Regions from separate parts of the Homo sapiens genome. Here regions 1, 2 and 3 are each linked to region 4. The links come from fine-mapping of genetic effects on gene expression. A gene starts in region 4. Each other region holds a variant in brackets. All regions are shown on one strand. Distances are between the middles of the regions.

Region 1 (7,170 bases), 56 kb before region 4:
GCATACCCATGACATGAAAAAAATTCTGTAAATGAAACATCTGCAAACATATTTGTGAACTTTTGCTTTTGAAAATGAATGAACTTGCTAGAAGCTCACCGGAGATGCATAAGAAATACCTAATAATTTACCTCTTCAGAGCTCATGCTGGCTGAGGGTACCTTGTAGACCAGACAGTGCGAGGGGTTGGGCTGGATCCCACCCTGCAGAGGCAGGGTCACCCTTCCAGAATCAGCTTCCAGCAAGGGGTTCCAAACAGCCCAGCGGACCATGTGCATGCATGCCAGGTTGGACAGAGAGGTGACCGAAGCTGCCTAGAATTAAAACAAAGCACATCGGTGTATGAGTTATCACAGAAGTCACCTGGAGAGGGGAAATCAACAGTGCTTTCATGTGTAAAATTCAACGAGAGCTCAGTGTAGCAAGGGGCAGGGATCATCAGTTGCATTTTATAAAAGGAACTAGGGCAGGAGGAGGACATGGCATCCACAGTGCAGACAGTAGGGCACAGATAGTCTTCAGTTACATGACCCCACCGACCCAGTCAGGACCCCTGCCCACCCATGAGTCTCCTTTTCTGGCCCAAGGTAGTGATGGCTTCCCCCTTAGAGACCAGCACTGTTTTATGAACCCCTGTTCCCATAAGGATCTTTCCATAGGTTTGTAAACACTCTGCACCTTGCCAACACCAACTCAAATCCGTCAGGAAAATACTAGGAACAGCACTTTGAATTCCTAATCAGAAATTTGGTAAAATAACGAAGAATGCACATGTATATTCAACTCAGCATTATTAGCACACATTTTCTCCACAAAGCTCCAGCTTACAATAGCACATTTCGTATCTGTAGCTTTCAGGAAATTGGGAAATCGATCGGGTCAAATTCCAGGCATTGTTCCTTCTTTCTGCTTCTCTCTGGCTGGCCAAATGGAAGGAATGAGGACACTGTGAAAACCAATCCCTTGGGTTACAACCACATTAAAGTCATTGTCACAAACACGGTTTCACGGCTTGACTGAGTAAAGAGTTTTAAAATTACCAACTTTCATCCATTTACTTAAAAAGAAGTAGGACTAAAGCTAAACCCCGGTCTTTTTTGGACCCCAAAGTCCAGCAGAGCCACCTTGTTGAAGAGGACTCCAGAGGTGATCAGCTCTGAACCAAGGCCCTGCCTGCAGATCCTGCAGGCTCCCCTGGTGGGTGGAGCACACTTAAGTCACCAGGAAGCCGATTAGCCAGAGGCCCATGGGGTACAGGCAACAGCGGGTCCGACCAGGAGCCCCAGTTAGAGCTCTTTCCACTCCTAAGATCACAGCTGCACTGATCAGTAAGTGCTGCGGAGCGCTGCCTAGACCAGAGCCACCGGAACAGCCCAGAGGAAGGAGGAGCAGCTGTCCACTTCCACCTGGGACTTCCAGCCTCTGTGTCCCATGCGCAGGAGAAACAACCCCCAAGCAGGAGGTGGTGACTGGACCATGAGCACAGTGCTCCACTTCCTACAGTGCTCCACTTGCTACGGCTTCCCCCCAGCCCTGGCTAACAGAGACAGCTGCACCCTTCAGGGGTGACAAAAGTAAAATGGGGTGGCTCCCCACTGCTCCCAGTCCCGGGCTTGGCTAAGGCAGCCAAGGGCATCCCTCTTAACACTGCTGCCTGAGGGCATGAACCCAGGCAGCATCGCAAGCGCAGCCATGGTCACAGCGAGGAGGTGGCCCGGAAGGAGGACGCGTCCCACTCTTGGTGACGAATGGACGCCCATGCCCTGCCTAGGATGGGTGGAGCACAGCATCCACCAGGAACAGAGACACCCAGAGGATCCAGGAATTTGCGCTGCCCTGGGAGCGAAGGAGGAGGCAAGACTCCAGTGGTGGTGGCCAGGGGTCCTAAGGGACTTTGCTTATTTGGCTGGACATGCCAGTGGGGAACAGCCACACCAGTGTCACTGCCCAGACTGCACTCAGGTCCCACACAGATCCCCGCATGCATGCGTGCTCTCAAGGCCTCTAAAATCCGGACACAGATGGCCCCATGGTCTCTACTGGGCTAAACCACAGCCAACTTCATATACAAGCAGATGTGAATACAGAAAAGAAAACAGTTCTTGTTTCTTCCAAGTTAGCCTCTTCCAGACTGTTCCTGCCAGATGATATCCCATCCTGTTATATCCTAATAAAAATTTAGAATCGGCATCTTGTTTCACATTAATCTCTTTTCCCATCACAATCGGACTTCAAACCATCCACTTCTGCAGAGCCCTTTGCTGCAGCTAAATTCCAGATCATGGGCCAGGTTACTGCCACATTCACGCCCCCGTCACAGGGTGAGCGGGGATTTGGGTGGTCCCTGGCAATTCAATGAGAAAACACCCACACCATGGAAGGACATAGAATCAGAAAAGTAAGAAATGGAAGCATATGACTCTAAGCCACACTTTCAACATTTGCCAAATACAAAAACAATGTCTTCCTGTTCCCCATCCAGTTAGCTGACAACAGATTATAAAACAGTGCTGAGCAACTATAGCATACCAACGACATGGTGATTATAACTCCACTGCTTTTTAAAAATCAAATTACAGCCAGGCACGGTGGCTCACGCCTGTAATCCCAGCACTTTGGGAGGTCGAGGCGGGTGGATCACCTGAGGTCAGGAGTTCAAGACCACCCTGGCTGACATGGTGAAACCCCATCTTTAGTAAAAATACAAAAATCAGCTGGGCATGGTTGTAGGCACCTGTAATCCCAGCTACTCGGGAGGCTGAGGCAGGAGAATCGCTTGAACCTAGAAGGTGGAGGTTGCAGGGAGCCAAGATCACACCACTGCACTCCAGCCTGGGCGACAGAGTGAGACTCCATCTCAACAACAAAAAAATCAAATTACTATAAATGTATTAGGAAAACTTGTCACTATAAGGATTCAACAATGTCTAGACTACTTTTGTAAACAGTTATCATTATAAAATACAGAAGTGTATTATTACAGGATCAAAAACAAAATAAAGTAAAATATGTATCTACGTTTTCATGCTATCTATACAACTTCTAATTTTCCACTTAGGGGATTCCAATATCTAATTTTCCAATTTCACAGTTCTTTTTGGTTCTCCATCAGTAGATGATCTCCTCTGTGCAAAGTATCTGTCAGTTACATAAACATGCATTTTTCCTCACTTTTCTGTTTAACAGCTTTAATAACAACAACAAAAAATCTGTGTAGCCAATTATTGATCATTCTTTCTGAGACCTCAACAGGCGAATGGGGGCCTGGTGGGAAGCCAGTCGCCATGTATTTGCCCACACTTGCTCACTGCCAGCCCACAGAGGGACCGGCAGACAGGAACTGCCCGAAAACCACCTGGCTCTGCAGAGAAGGCCAAGCACAAGCAGAGTCACAGTGAGTCTAACACGCTCCTACAGCCAGTGGATCCTAGTGCTTGAGATGACATCCACTACTTCATCATTCCTTTTCCTGCCCAACTTGGGTTTGAATTCACACAAACTGAAAAGAAAAAAAAAGCCCCAAATACACCGAATTGCTCCCATTTAGACTTTTTAAGTATAACAGCACCAAATACACAAGTACAAATACACAAAAGACAAAATACACAATACACAAAAGACAAATGAGGAATACACTTGGATTATGAGTCAGGTTTTGTTGTGGAACAGAAGTGCCACACTTGCATTTACCACGCAAAGCCGCTCACAGAAAACAGGCCCTTGGCCTCTGGAAATGCTACAAACCAGAGTCCCTGTGGCGGGCTCAATGTGTCCTCCAAAAAGATGCTCTCAGCCTAATCCCCGGAACCTGTGGCTGTGGCTTTGTTGGAAACAAGGGTCTCTGTGGATGTGATTAGTTACAGTGTTGTGGGATGAGATAATCCTTCATTATCTAGACTGGCCCTAACTCCAATGGCAAGCATCCCTGTAGGAGCAGGGGAGAGAGAGACAGACACAGAGGGAGACACAGAGAAGAGGCCACATGACGAGGGGGCGGAGAACGGAGTGATATGGCCACAGGCCAAGGACAGCTAGGAGCCCCAAAACCCACAAGAGGCAGGGAGGCCCCATCCCACAGAACCTCCGGAGGAACTCAGTCCTGCCACACCTGGGGTTTCCTCGGAAGGAGCTCGGCCCGCCACACCTGAGCTTTGCCTGAGGAGGATCTCGGCTCTGTCACACCA[G/C]GGGTTTCCTGGGGAGGAGCTGGGCCCCACCACACCTGGGGTTTCCTGGGGAGAAACTTAGCCCTACCACACCTGGGGTTTGCCAGCAGAGCAGATTGTGGACCTGTGGCCTCAGAGCTGTGAGAGCACACATTTCCGCTGCTTTGAGCTGTGGAGGGTGTGACACTTTGTTACAGAAGCCACTGGAAAGTCATACAGGCCCTTGATGGCTTCTGTCCTCAGATCAACCTGAACTTACTTAGACGAAGGTGAAAACATCACATTACTTCACGAGCTTCATTTTGTTTAGATTTTCAGTGAGACCTTTTCACTCTTGCCTAGGCACCCAGCCTCTGGCCCTGGGCCCAGTTCTGCTGGGACCTCCAGCCCCAGGAACTGGGAATGCACAGTGAAGGGGATGGCGGCCGTTCTCTGGGTAATGACAGGGTGGGGTCCCCGCCAAGCAGCGCACTCACGCTCCACTGTCTCAAGGCCTTATCCAGATAGAGAGCTGGGCCCAGGGGAACTGCCACCTCGATGGAGGTGACATGTGGCACTTGGCTGAGGACAAATTTTAAAAAGACAAACTACTGCGTCAAAACATCTCTGAATGTTCCTAGTATCACACAAATCACAGAGGACATAAAGAAAAAAGAGAGAGAAATGTAGGTCTATAATTATGCAGACGAAGGAGACAGGGAGGCCTAAGATAAGTGTGAGGAAAGCAGCTCAGGCCCTGGGCTGGGAACACGCGCAGTCACACTCACGTGGTGTGAGAGCCACAGCAGGGACAGGGCTGACCCCTCGCAGGCACCATCCACCCTGTGCACCAGCTCCCACCCTGTGAAATGACCACCATACAGGCGCAGGAAACAGAGCAACCAGCCGCACACGGCGGGTGGCACAGACCCAGGAGCATCCTTGGAGGTGGAGCCTGGTGTCCCCCAGCAGCATGACAGGTGGGGCACACAAGCGGCGGGTGGCTCCGGAACTCAGAGCTCAGGGCACGGGCTGAGGGCAAGTCCTTCCCGATGGCTCGCTCGCTGGCCGGCATTCTCCCTGAAGGACACGGAGCTCTTGGCCCTTGAGGCGAACTTCACAAGGCCAGAGAGACTGAGCCCCACCAGGTGAAGAGCTGGGGGTGGCAGGCAGCCAGGCTGGCGTTGGTGCCTCTACCTCCTGGCTGAGCAGCAGGAAGAACCAGGAGCCCAGAGGTCACAACAGCAGCACAGCCACTGCCAGCAACAGCGGAGGTTCACAAGCCAGATGCCATCAACCAGAAGCTACTCAGTCCTCAAATCGGATCCAGTACATGCAGAACTGAGTCCAAACGAGACGGACAGCAAACCCGGCAGTGGCTCCCAGACATTCCTGGGGGAAAGGAATCCTAACCACAGGCAGTTAAAGTCATCTCCTCCAACCCTCTATGACACAGGCTGTGCGCTGTCATTTAAAAGCTGAGTGAAATTTAACCCTTTTCCCATTTAGAAAAACAAAGCGCAGCTGGCTGCCAGCACTCATTTAATTTTACATAAACGTGCTCTTTGAGGCTGAAGCAAATCTGACTGATTTTCAATGTGAAAATAAAATGTAAAAACTGTTCTTGGAATTATTTCTAAACAGAACATCAGAATCGTCTGAATCATCAGAATCGGCTATTTTGGAAAAATCGGATTCATCAAACGAATCTTCGGCCAACAACTGTTAGAGAACGATGTTAACACCACGCATAGGAATGTTACATTTTCTAGAATTTGACATTTTCATTGACGGAAAATTACTGTATCTTGTATATGGAAATACCACTACTAAAAACATAATGCTATAAATAGAATGATGTCTTTTGTTTCCAAAGTCAATATACTCGAGCAATGCAAAAATAATAATAAAAGTGAGATACTTCATGGCAAAGCTGCCGCAGGATAAACATTGCAGCCACAAGTGCCCCCAGTATTCTCGGGGCAAACTGGAAAAGGGCTAACAGGCAACATTTTCATGTTATTCTACTGAGTGCAGTAATTATTTTTAAAAATATACATGAATAATGAAAAAACTGTGGTATGGTTTTAAAGAAATTTCCATAACCTGGTGAAACTCTTCACACAGGGTAATAGGTTCATAAAGCCTTGGTCCTCTGCAAAACAAGCATCAACTTGACAATGACTAAAAGAAGCAACAGCAAAACTGTCACGCATTTGGAGCCATGGCCTGGGTTGGGCCGGTGTAAAGCTCTCCGCCCTCTGGAGCAAGTCTGGGCCCCAGCGGCTGGCATGTGGGCACTGCAGGGCCTGGGTTGGGCAGGTGTGCAGCTCTCCGTCATCTGAGCCTAGTCTGAGGCCTGGTGGCTGGCACGTGGGCCCTGCAGGGCCTCTACTTCTCACCCCAGCTCCACTTCCCTCCCTGCCCTCACTGGGTCTCACAGAGCCAATGAACACTGGGGTCAGATTCAGGGCCCAGCATCCACTGCAGTGGGCACTGCCCTTCCACAAGGCCTGGCTCCAGGAAGCAACCCCCACCTCAGCCACACAGTAGGGCAACAGGAAATCCCATTCCCCCATGCCAGTGACTACACCAGGGAAGGGGCTCACGTGAGGCTGGCCCCAGGCCTGCTGTGAGACCGCGTTGTCTATGAGCTTGGATTTAAGGAACTTGGGAGCAAGAAGCTTTCTTTCATTACGGGCCACCAGCAGGGAAAAAAGTTAGCCCAACGCAGTTGACAGTCACACCCCCACCAGGACCCCAGGGCACAGAAGGAGGGAAGAGGACAACAGAGGATGAGGTGGGGCCAGCAGAGGGACAGAGAAGAGCTGCCTGCCCTGGAACAGGCAGAAAGCATCCCACGTGCAAGAAAAAGTAGGCCAGCTAGACTTAAAATCAGAACTACCGCTCATCAAAAGATAGTGTAACATTTGGGGTGCTATAATTTTAACATGTCCCCCAAAAGGCATGTGTTGGAAATTTAATCCCCAACAAACCAGGGCTGGGAGGTGGAGCCTCATGAGAGGTG
Region 2 (7,170 bases), 79 kb before region 4:
GGGTCCCCCTGGAGCCAGGGACTGAGAACTGCCTTGGCCCTTTATAAGGCCACAGCTGCCTCCCAAGCATCCAGGGGCTGCCTAAAGAGCCAGCAGCCTCCTCCCAGGGCCACCTGTACCTGCCCAGCCCCGCCTCAGCCCAGCTGGCATTTGTGCTGCTTCTGCAACCCCTCCCCAGGCCACATGGACACCTCATGGCCCAGCAGACCCAGGGCTCTCAGCCCCTGCACCTCAGCAGGAGGAAGCCCCAGCATCGCTGGAGTCTCTGAAACCCACCAGGCTCCTGCCACAGCGGTGCTGGAGCGTCCATAGCCACTCGTCTCTTACGGTCATTTCACATACACTGCCATTTGCCTTTGCCCACCATGAAACCACCAAGCCAGACCCCAAGCCCATCCTGACGGGGCCACCTCTGCCCACTCAGAGGCCAGGGTGGGAGCCCTGCACACTGAGTCATCTGCCTGGCTTCCCTGAGGCCCACAGCCCAGTCTCCAGCCCATGTCCTGTCCCCACCTGGCTCATGACAGCCTCCTTCACGGTGACAGGACTCTCCACTGCAGCAGACACTACCACTCCCCATCGGACTTCCAGGATAACCCAGACCTCCGGAGAAATCAGGCTTCCCCCATGGCCCTGTCCCACCTCCCGTCACCCCCATGTGGCCCACATCTTGGGCCCAGCAGCTCGCCTTCCCTCCCTCTCCTGTGGCCTCTGCTGCCATGAAGGTTGGGCAAACGAATCTCCTATATGTCCTGGTATCCTGAATTCCTATGGCACAGAGCACAGGCCGGCACTTACGGGACCTACGGACCAAGCACACAGCACAGAGGCCTGTGACGTCAAACGCTGGGCACTCTGGATAGAGACTGCTCAGCCACTTCGTGTTCCGCTCTGAATCCCAAAAAAACAAAAACAACAAGGAAAATGCTGTCGACCAAGGAGAAACCAAATCCAGAAAGTGCCGCCCTAACACCAGAGCTGCACGACCATCGGAGCCAATCCCCGCCGTGCCTCTCCCAGCAGCTTCCAGAACCCATCCAAGGAGGTGCTTCCCCAGCTGCAGGATCTGGTGGAAACCCTGCTAAGGGCCTGTGGATGGGTGGAAGGCATTGGGGCAAGGCCAGAGGGAGCCCCCAACCCTCAGAGGATCCAACTGCCCAGCCTGGCGGGCACAGCTCCCAGTCCAACTACCTCCTGGGCAGCGCCCATTTGGCCCGCGCAGCTCCTCTGTAACCAGCCACAGTAACGTGGCTCCAAGGAGCACAAAGACTCTGGTCAGAGGAACCTGCCCTTCTATAAATGAGCTCACGTGCTCGGAGGGAGTTAGCAAATGATCTAGCAAGCTCTGCTTCCCCAGGAAAATATCATCTCACTAAAAGCAAAATGCAGATGAGGATTCTGCAGGGGCCCAGCTGTCCTCAAAGCCGATGCCTCTCCCCAGATTCCCTGAGTGCCTCTTACAGTCCATTTCAGAGCTCCGTACGGCAAACCCCTGCCCACCTCCTCCCAGAAAAAGCCTGAAAGATGACACAGCAGAGTGGTAAGTGAAGCTCCACGCCGTTCCTCCGTAAATGGGAACTCGGAAAACTCCGCAGGCTGATTTTGATAATGAGGACAAATTGCCAGAAATGGCTCCATTATCTTCAGCAGAGACAGCGGGCACTCGGGGGCCAGCCCTCCGTGCCTGTGTGCGTCCTCTTGGGGAGGAAAAGCTGGATGAAAAGTTAAACCTTCCAAGCACATCTGAACTTCTCGCATGCATTTTATTTCCCCATCGTCTCAAATTTGCATACAGTGTGGAAAGTTTTTTCAAGTAACTCTTTATATCATGACTTATGCAATTTTTTCTTCCAAGAGAGTAAACCTACCTACAAGGCCATTTAAAAAGGCCATTAAAGGTGGCCATTTAAAAAGATACCTGGTGGGAAGCCCAGACCCCCAGGGCCCAAAACTCAGATCCAACCGGTGAAGCAGAGCAGGAAGAGACACACCAAGGCCACGAAATAACTCAGTTTCGAATCTCTTTGTTTTAATGTTCGATGTGGTTATGGGTTAAGGTGCTTCCCAAACTATACTCATAGTCCTGCCCAGAGGACAGCGCGGCCGCCAGGGAGCACCCGCTGTACTCCAGGCCCCAGGAGTCTTCCAAAAACCACGGTGGAGTCTGGGAAGCCTGACTTCCGCCACATAACAGGACTTGGCTGACAAGCACCTGGGCCAGCAACTGAACCGGGAGCAGCATGCGTGTGCACAGGACACAGGTAGGAGCAGCTGCGGTGAGCAGACAGACGAGCACAAGGCTGTCTGGGGCAGCGCTGCGACAACAGCAAAACATTAGACACAATCCTGGTGCTCCTGCAAATGGAAGCTACCTCAGCAGAACCCGGCAGATCCTGCGTGGGGCAGGGGAGCAATGGGATGGGAGGAGACCAGCCGGTGTGTGCAGAACTGGGAAGGCAGCCGCGGCAAGTTAAAAAGTGACGATAGGCCGGGCACGGTGGCTCACGCCTGTAATCCCAGCACTTTGGGAGGCCGAGGCGGGTGGATCACAAGGTCAGGAGATCGAGACCATCCTGGCTAACACGGTGAAACCCCATCTCTACTAAAAATACAAAAAATTAGCCGGGTATGGTGGTGGGCACCTGTAGTCCCAGCTACTCAGGAGGCTGAGGCAGGAGAATGGCGTGAACCCGGGAGGCGGAGCTTTCGGTGAGCCGAGATCGCGCCACTGCACTCCAGCCTGGGCAACACAGTGAGACTCCGTCTCAAAAAAAAAAAAAAAAAAGAAAAAAGAAAAAAGAAAAATGAAAGAAACCCACAGTGTATACGGGTGTGCTGGCAAACTCGTGGTAACCACACCCATGAGACATGCTAGGAAACGCGTATTCCTACATTGCCCATAAAACTTAAAGTAAATTAAATGTTAGTTTAACAGTCATTATAAGACACACCTGTAGGTCCCTGATGGAGCCTGAAGTAGTAACACAGTCAGCACAGAATGGAAAGCTGAGACCTCCACGGCAAGCAGCATGACCAGGTGCCTCTCCCAACACGGAGCCCCTCCGTTCTCACCCCTGCGGCAGAGGCCTGGGCTCCCTCACTGGGAGGGGAATCAGCGTCTGGCTGAGCCACCACAGGACCCTGGTTTCAGGGAAATAACCTGGCGTTAAGAAGAAGAGCACAGAGCCTGGCCAACGTGGTGAAGCCCCGTCTCTACTAAAAATACAAAAATTAGCCAGACATGGTGGCACGCGCCTGTAATCCTAGCTACTCGGGAGGCTGAGGCAGAAGAATTGCTTGAACCCAGGAGGCGGAGGTTGCAATGAGCAGAGATCGCGCCACTGCACTCCAACCTGGGCAAAAAGAGTGAGACTCCATCT[CA/C]AAAAAAAAAAAAAAAAAAAGCACAGAGACTCAGCTCTTCCACGGCTGCTCCAAGAAGCTCGTGGCCAGCGGGGCCCTGAGATGGGGTTGCCAGCACACACCTCTGGCCCAGAGCCAGATCTGAGAAGAGCAGGAAGAGACTAAGTCACTGGTTTCCCAGGACACCAGAACCAACTGTGATCCAGAAATGGTCCACATGGATTGCTAGAGACAAAGAAAAACTTAGACTTCCCACCACGGCAGGTTTCTCCACCTCTCTGAAGATTCCTTTTCCCTGACGCTCTATCACTCTCCAATCAGTCTCCACTTGCTGAAAACCACAGTCAACAAAATCTCAAATGTCTACTTTTCTGTCAATTTAGCTTCAAGAAACTCAAAAGCCCTGCACTCAACTACAGCACAGGCCTCAGGAGGCAAGGCAGGGCCTGCACTCTGATCCCAACCCCGGGAGGCCACGCATCCCACCTGGTCACTGCCAACGTCTTCACACTGCCTCTGCACTCGCCTGGAGGGGGCCCTGCAAGAGGATGCAACCCACACACATTCCACACGCAAGAGAGACAGGCATGCCCTCAAGCCCATGGCTCTCAGCACTGTGGGTGAGTTGAACTGCAGAAGTTGTACAGTGAACAAATAATGCTCAAATATACTCACAGGGACAATATTCCCCAGAATTCCTCCTTCCTCCACCCCGAAGGAGATCATTCTATACATAACGCAGAGAACAGAAAAGAACATTGTTACCCAGAGTAATAATACCACTAACATCACAGCCCAGAACAGAGGAAGGAGCTCTCCAGCCAACCCCATGGCCGCCAGGCACGCAGCTCCCCGCAAAGTAAGTACACTGGGCTTCGCTTCTTCATCACGCACGCGGGCCAGGACATGAACAGGGATAGGGCTGGGGCAGGAGGCGGCCTCCCCACCAACAACCCTCTCTCACTTCCAGCGTCACCTCACCAGACAGATTAAAAGTACTGACTACCAGCTGGACATGGTAGCTCATGCCTATAATCCCAGCACTTTGGGAGGCCAAGGCAGGAGGACTGTTTTGAGTCCAGAAGTTCGAGATTAGCCTGGGCAACATGGCAAAATCTTATCTATACAAAAAAAAAAAAAAAAAAAAAAAAAAAAAGGCCTGGTGTGGTGGCATGCACCTGTGGTCCCAGCTACATGGGAGGCAGAAGTGGGAAGATCACTTGGGCCTGGAAGGTGGAAGCCACAGTGAGCCGTGACTACGCCATTGCACTCCAGCCTGGACAACAGAGTGAGATCTTCTCTCAAAAAAATAAAAAGTACTGACTACACAAGGGAGTCCCGGCACTGCCAGGCTGCGGTGTCCATGTCCTGACCTAGGGTTTCACTGAGCAGCTATCTGTCGCCTCAAGCCACATAACTTTTCAATATGCATGCGCATTGCCAATTAAAAAGTGAAAATAGAAGCAAGGGGAAAGGAAGGACATGTTTTCACCACCTTTACTTTCCCACGTCCATAGATTCATTTTCCAACAAACATTTTATCAGATGCCTGCGCTATGACAGGACCACAGAAAGAAATGAAGATAAGGAAACAGCTCAGTGGAGGACGGGGCTGTGGTCTTCATTGAGATGTCTTCCTAGGCTGAAGGGAGCAGGGGCCTCTCAACATCAGGACACATGCATGGAGGCCAACGTGTCCTTTCTGGAAATGTGAACGGGGTCGTGAATGCGGTCCCCACAGCACCAGTCCCCTGTGGCCCGACTGCCCCAGCAGGTGCCAGGTAGACCTCCCCCCCGCACCCTGAAACGCACCTGTCCTCCTGGGCCTAGCTGTGCTGCCAGCCTGCCACTGAGCAAACAGGGGTCAGCAGAGGGCTGGATGAGGGGTCCTAACAGAGGAAAATGCTCATTTCGCTGAGCAACTGCCCAGCTGAGCAAAGCTGCCTGCATTTACCTATGGGGTCAGCAATTCCGTGGGAGAGAGAAGTCCTGAGGGAGGAGGGAGAGGGGGCAGCACGCAGAGGCTGTTGCTTAGCAACTCATGGCAGCTGGTGGAAGGCAGGGACGGGCCAGGCCTTGGGCCTTGGGCCTTGGGCCTTGGGGGTAGACTGTGGCCCTGTTACAAACAGGGGTAAACAGATGGCCCCAAAAGGCAGGGGAAAGGAAGGACCATCGCTAGTAAAGATGCAGTCTCTGGGGTTTGAAGAAGGGTTGCAAAAAGTAGCTTCCTTTCATCAGGCCGTGAAAATAAAGGATGAGTCAGTATCTAGTGGTACTCTAGACACTAAGAATTCACATGGCAAACCCACTTGAAAGGCCTTTATTCCTAACTATTTGTAGGTAAAAAGTCATTGTTCCTAAGAGTTTGAAAACAGGAATGGGAAAATGAACAAAACCTAAGCAGAGATCAAGGGGCAACTGGATGATGAGTGAGCACAGGACTCTGTGCTGCAGGAGTCCAGATCCCAGGCAGCCCAGGACTGCAGGAGTCCAGATCGCAGGCAGCCCAGAACAGGAGCTGGTTCAGCAGGCCCAAGCCGAGTGGGGAGTTCCGTGACTTGCCAGAGCCCTGAGCTGGGGTCACCTCCAGGGTCAGTTTCAGAAGTGTCACCTCCCTTGTCAAAGCCTTGCTCTGACCCACTGTCCCACTAATTCTCCAGCAAAATGCACCCTTACCACCTGCACACGAACTTCCATTCCGTGGTTGGAGGGTGGCCAAAAAGCTGCTCCATGGCCTTAGACTCTCCCCCACCACCATGTGATTGACTGAACCACCCTCACCCAGGACAAGGGAGCTGCTGTCTGTCGGAGAGGATGTTCCAGACCAGCTAGCAGCACAGCAGGCACCACGGGGCAGGAATCTAACTCCACGTGTCCTGGGAAACACCACAATTACATGTTTGCAATGACCCCTTCTACATGGCTGTTTTCAAATCTATTAAGCAAACAAACCAAAATTCTGACACCACCAGAGGAACATTCAAAAGCAAAATATAGGTCAGGGAAATTCCAAGTTACAAAAAAATAAAGACTGAGTGCCCTCTAGCGGCTCAATGCACACTCTTCTGTGGTAAGTGATGAATGAAACTTTGCTCCCTTGCAATGTTACAGAGAAAATAAAAAGGATTATTCATAACCGAGAGCCAAAGTACCTCACTTAAAGTGACAGCCGCATATCATTAAGATCTCCAAAGGAACCATATAAGTTGGTGAAATACTGAAGTATGAAAAGTTTCCATCATAAGTTAAACACTAGTGGGTATTTAAAAGTCTCTTACATTGGGTTTTGAGAGGCAATGTCTTCCAATGCTTGGAACCTGGGCTGAAGGTAATCATTTAATGTGACATGAATGCAGCCATAAATCCAAATTAAATAAACTCAGTGAAATCAGGGTCCATCCATGTAGATTTGCTGGTCCCCAAACAGTGACTGAGAAGTAGATTATGCTGCTACAGCTCATTTGCACCACCGTTCAACTCCTGGTCCTTCCAGTAACCAAGGCACACTCCTCTCTGCCAAGGATATGACAGTAAATCTTCTGGTGAGGAACTCAAAGCATGGTTCCCCACAGCTCTGCATCTTAAGAAGTCAAGCTAGGCCGGGTGCAGTGGCTCATGCCTGTAATCCCAGCATTCTGGGGCCAAGGTGGGCGGATCACCTGAGGTCAGGAGTTCAAGAGCAGCCTGGCCAACATGGCGAAACCCCATCTCTACTAAAAGCACAGCAGGCTTCTAGAAGGAGGACAGGCTGCTTCTTACCTGTCTTCGTCCTTCTCAAACAAAAGAAAGAGTCACAGGAACTACTCAAGT
Region 3 (7,170 bases), 100 kb before region 4:
TGTCTGGGACAGCGAGGAATCCAGGACGGAAACCCCAATGGGACTCCAGGAGGAAGACAGGCCATGCACAGAGAGGGCAGGGGAGGCAGAGAAGGCCGGGGAGGCAGGCCAGGCCAAGGGCACAGGGCACAGGGTACAGGGTACAATGCCTCCCCCGTTTCCCTGGGCCAGGAAGCATGGCTGGGGTAGAGGCCCGTGGGGCCCAGGGAGGGGCCATGGGGCACGAGAGGCCCGCCGGGAGCCCTGGGCTGGGGTTTGGCCCAGTTCTGCATGCCAGGCCGAGGCTGCTCGGGGCAGGGTGGGAGCAGGAAGCCTCAGACCCAGCAGGGCCTCAGCAGGACTTTCCTGACCACGGGCTCTTCTGCTGATCAGATTCCACGGCTCAGCACTCTGCCCGAACGCCAACACTGTGAGGCATGTGGGGGATGACAACGGCCTCACGGCTGTGCCCCAGGCGTGGCTGGGACACTCTTCCCCCGTGCCCTCTCTGCTCTGGTGCTTCCTCTCACATAAGAAGCAGTGTGGGAGCAGATGAGGTTCCGGATTTTGTAATTCTCCAGTTTCTACAGCAACAAAAGTGCCTGTCTCTGGGAGTGAGACGCCAGACCTGACCCTTCCCTTGTGGGTCTGGGGGCTTCCGGTCGCCGCAGACCCTGGTCGCTTTGCCACACTCGTCTACACTGCATACGATCACTGCATAGACATCGATGATTCCGGAACCTCAGTCACTGGGAGACTGAGAAGATATGAGAAGTCTCCTTTAGGGAACAGCCAACAAATACAAGAAACCATGTCAGCTTCTCCAAGAGGCAAGGAAATGCGAATGAAAACAAGGCACCATTTTCCTCCCAAATCATTATCAAAATGGCCACTGGCGACTGGTTTAAAGGCTGACACACTGTGAAGCCAAGGACATGGGACACAGTGCCCTCTGTCTTCAGGAAGTGCAGGCCTGGCTGAGCCTTCGGGCCAAACCCCCATCTGGCTCTGCATGCCTGCGGCCCTCACGGTGGCACCATCAGAATTCTACTTCCGGGAACATGTCATTAGGGAGAAGAGGATGGTAAATAGCACAAGCCCCGGAGACAGAATTAGGCTAAGACTCTGCCCTGATGATCATCAGTGTGACCCTGGGCCTCTGTTTTCTCCACCAGAAACAAGGATAAAAACAGAACTGCCCCAGGGCTGGGCTAGGGGTCACACTGAAGGCAGCACAGGAGCCGTCCGTCCCTAGAGGAAACTCTTCTCATCGTCGTAGCAACGTGTTACGGCCAGCACCCCCAGGAAATCAACTAGAAGATGGGGGTAAAATTGAACTTCAAGAAGTCCACAGCAGTGATTAGCAGAAGGAAAAGCCACTGTAGTGACCCGCAACAGCAAGAGCTCAAACAAGATGAAAGCTGGCCCCGCCTGCAGAAAGTAAGTCCACCAAAGGCTAACCGGAGCAACCTAACTCTCCCAGGATCTGGAGTCCAGAGGATTCTCTCTGATCATCTCAGTTTTTCACGTTTTCTACCTAAGTTTTAAAGTTACAAGATTTTATTTTAGAAAAGTGAAGCTTTAAATTTAATTTATTCAAGTCTATGTCAACAAGCGTAACGGCACTTGTTTAAGGGGCTCTTCGTGTAGGGGGAGATCAAATGGCTTCCGTCTCCAGGTGGCACAGCAAAGAGGGGGCACAAGGCTCGGCTGGGCACGACAGGGGAGCCACTGCCACCCCACACATGCCCAGCGGGACCCGGCTCTGCCTCCCACACCGCCTGCCTCCTTTACGCCTCCCCACCATGCAGAGCCTGCTGGGGCTGAGGCCTGTGCTAGAGATGCTGTGGTGTCGACACACAGTCCTGCCCTGGGGACATCAAAGCCAGCATGGGAGACGGACAAGCAAGGGCCACGATGACCCTGTGGGGCCCTTGCCATGACCCCAACAGGAACAGAGGCCCAGGGTGAGGCATGAGAAGAGCAGCCAAGCCCTGCGGAGTCCCTGCCACCTGCAGACCCCACCCTGAACGTTCTGTGCACAGCCCACCACCCTGGGGGGCATCCCCCTCCTCTAGAAGTCACAGGGAGCAGGGATGGAGCCTGGATCAGTCGGTCACACGGGGAGCCAAGAGCAGACCATGCCTCAGAGGAAGAGCAGCTGGAAAAACTCCCATACCCCATCCCCCCACCCCGAGAGCACAGCGCAGCTGAAGGAGCAGAGGAGCCGTGCTTCTCAGGGGTCAGCAGCTGCTGGAGAGGACAGGAAGCCCCGGGGGTTCAGCCGTGTCAGGAATCCAGGAGGAAAGCAGCTATGCGGCACTCAAGAAAAGTGGGGAAATCTCAGAGACTCAGGGGCTGCAATAATGACGCCACATCCTCTCCCAGCTCCGTCCCGTGGCCTGAGAGAAGTCTCAGGACACCATGGTAGCGTGTGAAACTGGCCCCAGTCCTTGGCCCAAGAGTTGTCATGGGGTCCCCTTCATACAATGGAGAAGGCTTGGGAAGAATTCCAGGGAAGACGAGTGAAAGAATCCATGGATTTAGGTTTTAGTATACAAGGAGAATGGAAAAGGACAATTAGTAAAAGAGATTCTAATTTTCACCAGAATGAGAAAAGAACAACACGTCACTGACCTTAGGAATCAGGTCACACTGCACACCCCAGTCATTCGCGTATCCATTCATTCATCCTCAACCCACCTCGGATGCACCTGCCCTCACCACATTCACCACATGGGAGGAGATGAAGTGACACTGCCTGGTAGGTCAGTTTGCAGGAGAAATAGATAACTGAGTTTGATCTTAAGAGTTTCTTGAGCAAACAACTAGCATTATAGAATTCAGACAGTGAAAAATCTTTTCCTTTCAAGAAACAGAGAATGCAGCACTATTTTTAACGAGTGAACAAAGAAGGTCAAACAAGTCCTGTGCGGGATAGCGCCCGCTCCTTCCAAGCAGACAGACGCTGGAAGCGTGACTCGTCCCATGAGGGACGCAGCACCCACTGTGCCTGTCCTTCCAGAGAGCCGCTACCTTCATCTGGACGGCAGCAGATCCGATGAGCAGCAGGGAGTCTCCGTCCCAGACGTCAATCTGCAGGGTCTGCACGGCCAGGTAGCGGGCAAAGCAGCGCCGCTCACCTGGCTTCAGGAACCCAGGGCCCACCATGTACCTCAGCTGGAAGCCAGGAGACCCTGTCAAAGAGGCACCAAAGGAGGCCAAAAGTAATTGGAGTCATTCATCATCTTTACACTTGGAAGAGATTTCAGCTCTGGTCATGATTACTAATTTCTGCTTCTGTCATAGCTACAGTTAATAAACACATTAATCAAAAACATCATAAAATATTCAAATTAACAGAATGAAGAGTCATGTTCAGAAGACTACATTTCTTTCGCATAGAAACAATAAACTCCTCCCAAAATAAGATTTATGGTTTCACCAAGTCCTTGTAACAGCCTAAGATGGATGGGAACAAATGTCCTTATGAGGCTGGCTAGGGAGTTTATTATTCTGGGCGTGTAGAATTTAAGAAAAAATGTAGTCTACATCTGCTGTCAAAACTGGCATGTTCACACACACAGGCAGAGCTCAAACCGAGATCAGGCTTAGAATGATGTGTGGGACACCCAGCAGCCCCTCTCCTGGCCCTAAAGCAGGACGGCACCTGCCCCGTGGGTATCC[C/T]GGGCTCCTCCCGTGCGGTCTGCCCTGGTCATCAGGCTAAGAGATGGGAACTGGACTGCGGCCCCTGCCTTCATCTTCTTGAAGTGACATTATCATTAATTCTAAATTGACAAAAATGCCATTCAAACCATCCTTAGTTAAAATTCGAGGAACAGCAATGGTGAGAAGCATTTCAAAACAACATTATTTCTCTTTCTATCAATAATGGTGACAACATTCCCACAGCCCCCAACGAGCAGAGGAAGGAGCGAAGGTTTACTCAGCACCTCCAGTGCCAGGCCCCAAGCCAGGCTGAAATTTGGCCACAGGTCCTCTCCACCCAGGCTCCAGCCCCACAGGATGACCACAGACCACATTCCATCTGCGTTTCTCAAGACCAGAGGACAAGGAGTAAGCACAATGTGTCCGGACAGGGGACCTAGGGGGAGCGAAGAGTGCAGGGCCCAGGGTGGGCCCCAAGGGGGTGGAGCAAGGACCCACTGCTCAGGCCCGGCGCTGGCCACAGCAGGAGCTCACGGGGGCATCTTGGGGCAGAAAGGCAAATAAGGAATCTGGAGGAAGACCAAGGAGGAGCTGGTGATTAACATCACGCAAGGGCAGGCATGTCCCCAGTGTGGCACCTCAGAGGTGACCAGCCACACAGCCCCCACCCCTGCCTGGACTGTGGCATCTAGTGAGAGCTCCCAGCATGAGCGACGCAGAAGATGGGTGATTTCTGCATTTCCAACTGAGGTACCGGGATCATCCCACTGGGGCTTGTCGGACAGTGGGTGAGAGTTGGGAGGCTGGTCAGAGGAGCCTAGACCAGGATGGCCCCGTGCCTAGCATGCTCCTGCCCCCCACTCCAGGAGCTCTCAGCATGCTGTCAGCTCTGGGATCAGTGTCTCCCTGTTTTGAAACCCAGAGCTCCTTAAGGGTGGGGCCCTGCTTGTCCAGTTCTCCCAGCACTACCCTGTGCAGGGCCTCCCACATGGTGGGGGCGCAGTTATTTGTTTGCTGAGTAAGTGAATTAATGGTAGCATTGAAAGGCCCTGGCAGTGCTGGGGTATAGTGGTGACAGAATGGGGGCCGGTCCAGCGGGGCACTGGAAGGAGCTCCCCAGGAGACAAGACAGAGGGTCCCACTGGGTCGAGCTGTGTTTGGGACGCGCGTACTCTCCCCACTGCAGCCTCAGACCTCTCCCCTCCCTGTCCAGCTGAGACAAGTGGCTCCTCCGTGGCCACCCCTGAGGTCCAAGCTCCCCACAGTCCACCCTGTGTCATTTCCATCCCACTCAGAAGTCCAGGAAGCTGGCCTCCAACTGAACTAAGAAGACTCCCAGGGGCAGTGGCCCTGTCCTCCCCAAGCCCACCTCCTGCACCCCCTTCACAAACACCACGCCCCAGCCCGGCTGGAATCCTCACTGCTTCTGGGGTTGAGGAAACAGAAAACACAGTAATGGTAGAAACTAACCACTCTCCATTCAAAGGCAGATCCAGGCAACGATGAATGAGTGACAATCTAGAAGAGCAGAGTGGCCAACTCCCACGGTGGCAGGGGTGTGGGGTGCAGGGATCGACCTTAACGCAGCACCCCAGTGACAGAAAAAACAACTTTTCAAGTGTATTTGGAACATTAATAAAAACGAACCATGTATTAGGCCACTGTGGGGACCAGCCTCACAGGGTCGGTGGGTCTCTCCCCGTGTGCGGCAACGAGAGAGTGTAGAAATAAAGACACAAGACAAAGAGATAAAAGAAAAGACAGCTGGGCCCAGGGGACCACTACCACCAATGCGCAGAGACCGGTAGTGGCCCCGAATGTCTGGTTGCGCTGTTATTTATTGGATACAAAGCAAAAGGGGCAGGGTAAAGTGTGTGAGTCATCTCCAATGATAGGTAAGGTCACGCGGGTCACGTGTCCACTGGACAGGGGGACCTTTCCTGCCTGGCAGCCCAGGCAGAGAGAGAGAGGAGACAAAGAGAAAGACAGCTTACACCATTATTTCTGCATATCAGAGACTTTTAGTACTTTCACTAATTTTGCTCCTGCTATCTAGAAGGCAGAGCCAGGTGGACAGGATGGAACATGAAGGCGGACTAGGAGCGTGACCACTGAAGCACAGCATCACAGGGAGACGGTTAGGCCTCCGGATAACTGCAGGCGAGCATGACTGATGTCAGGCCCTCCACAAGAGATGGAGGAGCAGAGTCTTCTCTAAACTCCCCCGGGGAAAGAGAGACTCCCTTTCCCGGTCTGCTAAGTAGCGGGTGTTGTTCCTTGACACTTTTCGCTACCGCTAGACCATGGTCCGCCTGGCAACGGGCGTCTTCCCAGACGCTGGCATTACCTCTAGATCAAGGAGCCCTCTGGTGGCCCTGTCTGGGCATAACAGAAGGCTCACACTCTTGTCTTCTGGTCACTTCTCACTGTGTCCCCTCAGCTCCTATCTCTGTATGGCCTGGTTTTTCCTAGGTTATGACCGTAGAGCGAGGATTATTATAATATTGGAATACAGAGTAATTGCTACAAACTAATGATTAATGATACTCATATATAAACACATCTAAGATCTATATCTGGTATAACTATTCTTGTTTTATATTTTATTATACTGGAACAGCTCATGTCCTCGTTCTCTTGCCTCAGCACCTGGTTGGCTTGCCACCCACAGGCCACAAAAAACTGCACTCCATAAAGTAGAAATACTACAAATAATATTCTCTTAACATAATGCAATAAACTAGAAATTAATATGCCAGCCTGAGCAACATGGTGAAACCCTATCTCTACAAAAAACACAAAAACTGCCCAGGCATAGTGGTGCATGCCTGTAGCCCCAGCTACTCATGAGACTGAGGCCCATCACTTGAACCCAGGAGGTGCAGGTTGAAGTAAGCTGAGATCACGCCACTGCATTCCAGCCTGGGCTACAGAGCAAGACCCAGTCTCAAAAAAAAAAAAAAAGGTAAAATTTTTTAAGAAACAAATTTGCAACTTACTCATAAATAACTTTCTGTCAAAGGGAAAACACAATCAAAAAAGATTTTCTGGAAACAATAATAATAATGAAAATACTACTTATCAGTATCAACAATCTTAAGGCAGTAATCACAGGAAAATTCATAGCCTTGAATCCTGGTATATCCACACAAACAAAAGAATTAAGATAAATGAATTAAGCAGCTCAAAAAAAAAATAGGAAGATAGTAAAGAATACCAAAAATCAAGGAGAAATGAGGGGACGGTAAAGATAAACACAAAATTTAATCAATTAGAAAACAAAACAATAGCAAAACCCATATGACATAAACTTTAAAATTCTTCAGAAAGACACACAGTAGAAATGAACAGATGGAAAGGCAGCCTTGTCTTGGACCGTCATCTCCTCGCTCTTGTGGCACTGTTCACAATAGAAAAGACGTGGAACCAACCCAAATGTCCATCAATGATAGACTGGATTAAGAAGATGTGGCACATACACCCCATGGATTACTATGCAGCCATAAAAAAGGATGAGTTCAT
Region 4 (7,170 bases):
CATGCTGGTTTGTTCCTTTTTGTTCTCTGTGGGCTATTTTTGTCGCTCAACTTCCCTTGTTTTGTGGAGGACCCTGACCCAATTCCATGTATGGGGAGAGCTGCTCCCCGATTCCAGCCAGAGACTGCAGTGATTGCTTCAAGGAGGAACACATGGCCCACACTGAGCCATCAGTCTTCCCCGGGAGACTTGAGCCCAGGATGTCTCTCCTCCAATGCCCACAACTGCCCACACCATGCCAGCCCAGAGCCCCAGGAGCCACCACAGGGAGAGCCGACTTTGGACTTCTGACCGGCCTAACTGGAAAAGAACAAATTTGTGCTACTTTTAAGCAACCAAGTCTGTGGGACTTTCTTACAGGAGCCACAGGAAATCATACAGCTGTCCACGACTTATAAGCAGAAGACACCTGACCAATACCAGCTCAAGGGCCATCTCCCCCAGGAGGGCTTCCCAGGTGCTCCCAGGGTCCAGGCCCCAGGCTCACATGGCCCCTGTGCTTCCCTTGGTCACATCATTCGTCACCTATCTTGTGTTGAATTGCTCGCTGGCCAAGTTCTTGAAGAAAGAAGCCTCATTCCTCCTGTGTTCTTGGTACCGTCACAACTCAGTAAATGGTCACGGAACCAAACAGAAGCTTTAGCAAAGCTACCCTCAAGCTTTTCTTTCCCACTGATGTTTTATAACATTCAGAAATGTATTCACACACAATGCAGGCCGTGATGGCCCCAGGTGGGGATTTCAGAGAGGAAGTCTCTCCTGACGCAGATGCCCATGCTCCTCACCTGCCCCAGATTTCTGACCCGGTGCCTCCTGCCCTCTCCCTGGGTGTCTGCAGGACTCAGTGCCACACTTGGCCCAAGGACACTGCTGAAGGACGTGCATACGCCAGTCGACCCTCACAGGGAGCATGAAGCATGCCGGCCCCCTGCTGTACTAGGAGGGCAGACACTAGGCGGAAGGGCATCCATTCCGAAAGCACCTGCCACCCACACGGAAGTCCTGAGGCTCGGGATGTGGAGGCAGGGCAGTCCTAGTCTGAGGGGCCACGGAGGCCGAGGTGACACCTGAGACTCTGCAGGTGGGAGCCCAAGCGCCCGCAGCAGCTCTCACTGCCATCCCAGCACCTCACAAACCTCTCCGGGTGCCCTTCCACCTGCTCCTTGCTCCTTTCCACCTCTGCTCTGGCCTCTAGGAGTCAAACCAAATGCTCCCTCCTCAGAGCGAGAGCCCCATCCCCCACCTCCGGCTGCTCCCACACAGGGCAGGTGACAGAAGAGCCACCACGCTTCACCAGGGCTGTGCTGTAGTCCTGCGAGACTGTGAGCTCCATGACACCAGGCTGGGTCTTCAGCAAAAGTCTTTTAAGGATGAAATACAAATGCCCTGGAGGAAGTGCAGAGGGGCCTTTGGGGCCAAATCAACAATAAAAGAGAAAATCGAGAAGGCTCCAGGTCTTGAACCCAAGAAAAGGGTACAGTGGGCTCTCCAGGGGAAAAAAAAAAAGAAGAAGAAGAAAATACACCCACTTTTAATGAGCCCCTGATGCAAGACAGGAACTCACATTCTATGGTTACTATTCCAACAACTCTGCCAAATGAGAATCATCATTATCGCCATCTTACAGATGAGAACACTGAGACTCAGAAAGGATAAACAGCCAATCCAAGGTCACACAGCTAGCTATTATAACTAGCTATTATAATAGTATTATAGATATAATACTGTAAGCTATTATAACTACCTCCCACTACCTCAATCAAGGAGGCCAGGAGAGGCCAAGGGAGAAGAGAGGCCCAGAGGGAAAAAGTAAGAGCACCAAAGGAACCCAGGGCTAATGCTGTCTCCTCTTTAACTTCAGGACAGATTCGCAGCCTCCCCACCTGTTTCCAACCTCCAAAATGAGAGCTGTGAAATCTCCTTGAGATCTCTGCTTCTGCTGATCTATTCAGCAACTATTTCCCGAGCACTTGTGTTCCAGTGCATAAGAAGGCTGTCAAATGTGCTGTCTTCAAGCATCTAGAAAGCCAGTGGGGGAGAAAGACAAGAAAGTGACTGTGAGCAGCAACAGGCCCCCGGGAGGGTGCAGAGGTGAGCAGGGCTGAAGGAAGATGCAGGGGGTGGGAGGCGCTGTCAGGGTCCGGGAAGCCTCCTTCCCGGAATGGAAAATGTGTAATGCCTGAGACCCAGATGCCTTGGGGAGCTTTTGGGGAAGCAGAGGTCTGATTAAGCACTGCCTGGAATTCCCTCATTCATGAGCATTCTTTCAGCACCTACCCTGCGCCCGGGAGAAACGGTCTTGAACACAGCAGACAAGCTCGCTACCCCCATAGAATGTAAAGAAACGGGGCACAAATTAGCATACAAAAAGACACAAGTGTGACCTACGGAAACTGCACAGAGGAGGTGCAACGAACGGAGCCCTGGGTTAGGACCGGGAGGCGCTGCCCACCATCAACAGAAATACTCCTCCTTTTGCCAACTACACACGCGAGAGGCTGGATTTCCTTCACAGACGTCCACCAAAGCCACACATCGCGACACACGGAGGCAGAAAGCAGCGGTCTCCTAAGAAGTTAGACACGAGGAATCTCGGGCAGCGAGGTGCCTGCAAGCCCGGGGGCGGGCGGGAGCAGCCTGCACGCGTGGGGAAGGGCACGCGGGAGCGGGTGGCGCCTTCCGGGCCGGGTCGGCCGGGAGGTTCCAAGGCAGGAAAGGGGCGCAGAAGGCCGGGACGGCGCCGGGTACAAAGCCTCGCAGGGACGCCCGAAGGCCGCAGAGCCACCGCGGGGAACTGACAGCCGGAGCCGGAGCTGGAGCCGGGGGGCGGGGAGGAGGGGCGGAGGGGCGCGGCCAGGCGGGGTCCGCGGACTCCGGCCTGGGAAGGATGCGCGCGGACTAGGGCGCGGGGAGCCAAGGCCCAGAACATCGGTACCGCGCTCCCTTCAGCCGAGGGGCTGCAGAGAGGCCAGGGGGCAGGGGGCAGGGGGCAGGGGGCAGGGGGCAAAGGGCAAGGGCAGAAAGGAACCCACGTAGCCAAACGGCACCCAGCGGCCCCGACCCCAAGTGTCCCGACGAGGGGGGACGCCTGCGACTAACGCGGGGACAGCCCCCGCCGCGCGCCACCGCCGCACCCCAGGCACCGGGCCCCCACGCAGGGACGGCGTGGACCACCCTACCCCCGAACCCCGAGGCTCTGGCCAACACTGAGGCCCCCTGTGCCTCGAGGCCGCGTCCAACCTCCCCCGCGGCGCCGGCCCACATGGTTCCGCCCGCCGCGGGCCGCGTTACCTAGGAGACCGACCCGCCGCGGCCGCGCCGGAGGCCACGGAGCCCACGCTTTTCAGAGAGTCTCCACTCGACGGACCCAGAGGCCCGGCGGCCGGTGCTCAACGGAGCCACAAGCCTGAGGACCGAGGACTGGCCGAGGGGCGCGCCCCGTCCGCTGCCACCCGCGGGAGGAGCCTCGGAAGGCGGCGCACCGCGCCGCACACTCAGTCCAAGAACCCGCCTCGCGTCACTGTCGCCGTCAGGGCCGCGGAGCCAATCAGAGCCCAAGTCGAGGGCTGCGCTTTGCGAGCGCCAGCCAATCGGTGCGGCGGCGGGCCCATCCTGATTTGCATGTCCGACGACCCCTCAACCAATGGTAATGTGACTGGCGTGAACAATAGCCAATCAGAAGCTGGAAGAGGCGTGGCCCCGGGCGTCCCACGAGGTGAAGATGCTGCTGGCGGAACCTGCAGGAGCTAGCGGGATTCGGGGGCGCTAAAGTCGCAGGGGCAGGGCGGGAAGGAAGATCCGGCGCGGGGCACAGGATCCGGAGCTGGAGCCCCCAGGTGAGTACCGGGGAGACCCCGGCGGGGCGCGCTTTCCACCAAGCTGCTCCGGGACGGCGGCGGCGGGTATCCGCGAGGCCCGCGCTGCGGCAGGCGCCGCGGTCCCGTCTCCATCTCTTCTTCCCCGGCCCTGCGTCCCTGCCTCCGCCGCTGTCTCACCTCCTCTCCAGCCTCCTCACCTCCTTCTCCATCGTCTCCCTTCCCCCATCCCTTTCTGTCTTTCCTTCCCTGTCCTCCCGCCCGCCCGACCCTTCAGCTCGCATCCCTGACCCCTGCCCCTGCCGCCGTCCCTCTTCCCGGTGCACCTCTTCCCCATCTCTGCCCGCTCCGGTCCTAGCAGCCTCGCCCTCCCCTTTCCTCCATCCTCCTCTCATCCCCTCTCCCGGCCTCTGCGCAGCCCCACCGGGGCGCTGCTGTTCCCGGTCCTCCCCATCTCTCCTCCTGATCGCTTCTCAAGGCTCATCCGTCGTTCTCGCTGCCTGTCCCTGTGTCGCTCCGGTCCCTTTCCCCACCCTCCCATTCTGCCCCCAGCCCCTCCGACCTCTCCCCGCGGGCACGCTCTCACCACCTTACCCTGCTCCCCAAGACTGTGACCCTGCTTCCTGCACCAGTTCCTCGGGCTGTTTACAGCACACACACCGCCACTTCTGACCCTGAGCCCCTACTCCTATCTTAAGCTTCTCCCTCCTGCCAGGCCTTGGCACAAAGCACTTCCGCACCTCCCTACCTGCTGCTGCTCCCAGGATGCAAAGACCCCACTGCTGCACCGCGTCCTGCGGCATTAGCAGCAGCCGGGGTACCTGCCCACCTTCCCACCCCGCCAACCAGCCGCATCCTGGTGTCCCTCCTCCTGGCATTTGTCCTGGGGGCTCTTACAGGGACTGTGCTTTGCCCGCAGCATCCCGGGGTGCTCCAGGTGGAAAGCCCCTTAGCACCTTTCCTCCCTGGCCACCGTCTCCTTCCCTCCCCACCCCCACTTTCCTGCTCAGCCTCACTTTGTGATTCAGCATTTTTGGGGTTGGTAACTTTCTTGCTTCCTGTCGTGATAGGGACCTGGCTACGGAGCTGAAGGCAGGGGTCTTGACCCTGCGGTTAGCAGGGCCACCTTAGGAACCAGACCTGAGCTGCCTGGTTGGGAGGGGGCTGAGGAGCTGGGGACCGCCACTGGGGGTTGTCTTTTCCTCCCTTTCATTTGTCTGCCCTGTGTTGAACTGTGTCCAAGGGGAGATGACATAAGTAATAGCTCTTGGGGAAGTGGGCTATTAGCATTTATGGAAATTAATACATCCACATCCGAGGAGCAAGAACACCAAGTTCAGGCCACAGCTGTCCCACTGTCTGTCGTTTCAGGATTTTTTCTTTCTCTGCAACTTCTCCTCCCCGACAAAAACCCCAGCCTCACCCCTCCCCTTTCCCCCAGTGCCAAGAGTAAGCTCCTGCTCTGCTAAGGAAGCCGCATTCAGGCCCCGCGTTGCAGGTTGCAGGGTTTGGGGACCTACGTGTGGAGAGTCACATCTGCCCACCTGATTCTCGCCTGGCGGCCGTGTCTGCTGCAGAGCCCTGTGCAGCTCCTGGCCCTGTGCTCTCGCAGTGTGGGGCCCTAAGAGTGCACTTGGTCCTCCAGGTCCTGTCATTGTCTCCACGGCCACACTCGGCCTCAGTGGCACTGACAGTGTTCGGGCCGCAGCACATCCCTCGAGAGCAGCATGGTAGGGGCTTCCCTGTTGACACCCAGGGCCATTTTTTTTTTCCCTGCGCCAGTCAGCAAATGCTTTGTAGGTGCTAGTCAACACCTGGGGGCTGAGCCAGGCACTGGAGTTGGGGGGTGTCGTGAAAAAGTGTGAAACCCTTTTCGTGTGTTTCTTGGTTGAGAACCGTCTTGGGTCTGGATTTGGAGCCTGGATGGGAAGCAGTGTGCACAGAAGCCATTGCACCCGGGAGGTGGGACGTGGGCCATGGCGCTAGAGAGCTGGAAAGGCCGAGGGTGCCATGGGCTGGCCAGCTAGAGAAGGCTTCCTCGCTTTCATTTTTCAGTCATCTTCTAAGACCCAAATGGTTCAGGAGGAAGCGAGTGCCACACAGTTTTGATTTGGCAGTTTCCGGCCTGGGCTTGGAGGGAGGGGCCTCCCCTAGACCTTCCTGTGTGTTGGTGCTCTGCCGTGGTAACTGGGAACACATCATCTGTGTGGAAGGAGAGCCTGCTCCCTCGCGAGAACCAGGGGACCGTGCTTCTGTTTCCAGGGACTCTGGCCAGGTGCGGTATGTGTCTGGTCCTCGGCTAAGTTCTCAGTGATATTCACGCCGCCAGAGGTCCCAGAGTGAATGTTTTCCTGGCGTCCCTGAATAAGGAGGCAGGACAGTGGGCAGCTCGGGGCGGCAATTCGAGAAGGATTGATGCCAGAGGTGTCTAGGGCCATAGACCCCATGTTCCCGCCAGTCCCCCTCCCACCACCAGGAGGACTTGGGTCTTGGCACCCAGCAGCCGGTCATCCTTGCTCTCAGAGGACTAAACGGAAGGACAGGCTTCTCCAGGGTCAACAGAGGCAGTGACGGAGCTGGGTTGGACCCCCTACTTCCTACTTATTTGAGCCCAGTTCATGCCTTGGCTGTCCGAGCTGGGGGAAGCCAGCACCCCGAGGACATGACCGGCTGTCCCTTCAGAAGGCCACTTGGAGGCATTGCTGACATTCATGGGCGCAGCCAGTGCCCTTGGGTGTGTCCAGGTCACTGGAGGGGCTTTTGGGACTGGGAGGTGCCACTACCATGGAGATTTCTCAGCGACTCAGTCCTGCCTGGCATGCAGGCCCTGGTGCAAGGGTACTGTTGTTCGTGGCCTTCAAAGAGATGGCCCCATAGTTAGAGAAGAGTGAGGGCACCAGGTCCGTGGTGGGATGAAGGAAAGGAGGGACCCTCCCCACACTGGAACTACACTCATGACCTCAGTTCGCCTCCGGCACTTGTAAACAACCCTGTGAGGGAGGCTGGATAGGGAAACTGAGGCACAGAGCAGCAGTGAAACTGATCCTGGCCTCCCAGCTAGTGAGGAAACCTTGATTCTGTTCCTGCCCTGCCAGAACTCTGTGAGAGGTGCCCCCTCCGCCATCACCTGAGCTCCATCGAATGCCTGAAATCCTCACCTCTGCAGGAGTGAGTCTCCCAAGAGGCCCTGGAGGCCCAGGCCCAGACCCTGGGGGATATGGAAGCACTCCTTTGTCGTGGCGTGGGAAGCCCCACACTGCTCTTTCCTTGGTGACGGGTGACCCGCCATGTTCAGGCCCCTCCTGGTCTATCTTCGGGTGAGTCTATTAAGGGATACACCATCTCCGCTCAGCCA

The links. PIP is the estimated chance that this variant, and not a neighbour inherited with it, causes the effect. A credible set is the group of variants that fine-mapping cannot tell apart.
Region 1: its variant is the best candidate, but not a certain one, in a credible set for the expression of NPHP4 in skeletal muscle (GTEx, PIP 0.88).
Region 2: its variant is the best candidate, but not a certain one, in a credible set for the expression of NPHP4 in monocytes (BLUEPRINT, PIP 0.71).
Region 3: its variant is the best candidate, but not a certain one, in a credible set for the expression of NPHP4 in blood mononuclear cells (TOPMed, PIP 0.50).

The regions. Positions count from the first base shown.
Region 1 is chr1:5,933,016-5,940,185 of GRCh38, forward strand. It overlaps NPHP4 (nephrocystin 4), which reads right to left. Exons shown (of 30, transcript NM_015102.5): 10 at 132-314. Among named protein-coding and RNA genes, the nearest start is that of NPHP4, 56 kb to the right of the region's middle. RefSeq lists an enhancer at 6,576-7,076. The variant G/C (reference allele first, on the strand shown) is at 4,185.
Region 2 is chr1:5,909,771-5,916,940 of GRCh38, forward strand. The region is part of intron 11 of NPHP4 (nephrocystin 4); the gene reads right to left. Among named protein-coding and RNA genes, the nearest start is that of MIR4689, 51 kb to the left of the region's middle. The variant CA/C (reference allele first, on the strand shown) is at 3,381.
Region 3 is chr1:5,887,853-5,895,022 of GRCh38, forward strand. It overlaps NPHP4 (nephrocystin 4), which reads right to left. Exons shown (of 30, transcript NM_015102.5): 17 at 3,016-3,176. Among named protein-coding and RNA genes, the nearest start is that of MIR4689, 29 kb to the left of the region's middle. The variant C/T (reference allele first, on the strand shown) is at 3,667.
Region 4 is chr1:5,988,953-5,996,122 of GRCh38, forward strand. NPHP4 (nephrocystin 4) reads right to left here and starts at 3,473. Exons shown (of 30, transcript NM_015102.5): 1 at 3,292-3,473. It also overlaps a transcript of KCNAB2 not described here. RefSeq lists enhancers at 2,042-2,896, 4,773-4,822 and silencers at 2,973-3,152, 3,303-3,472, 3,513-3,692, 3,773-4,022.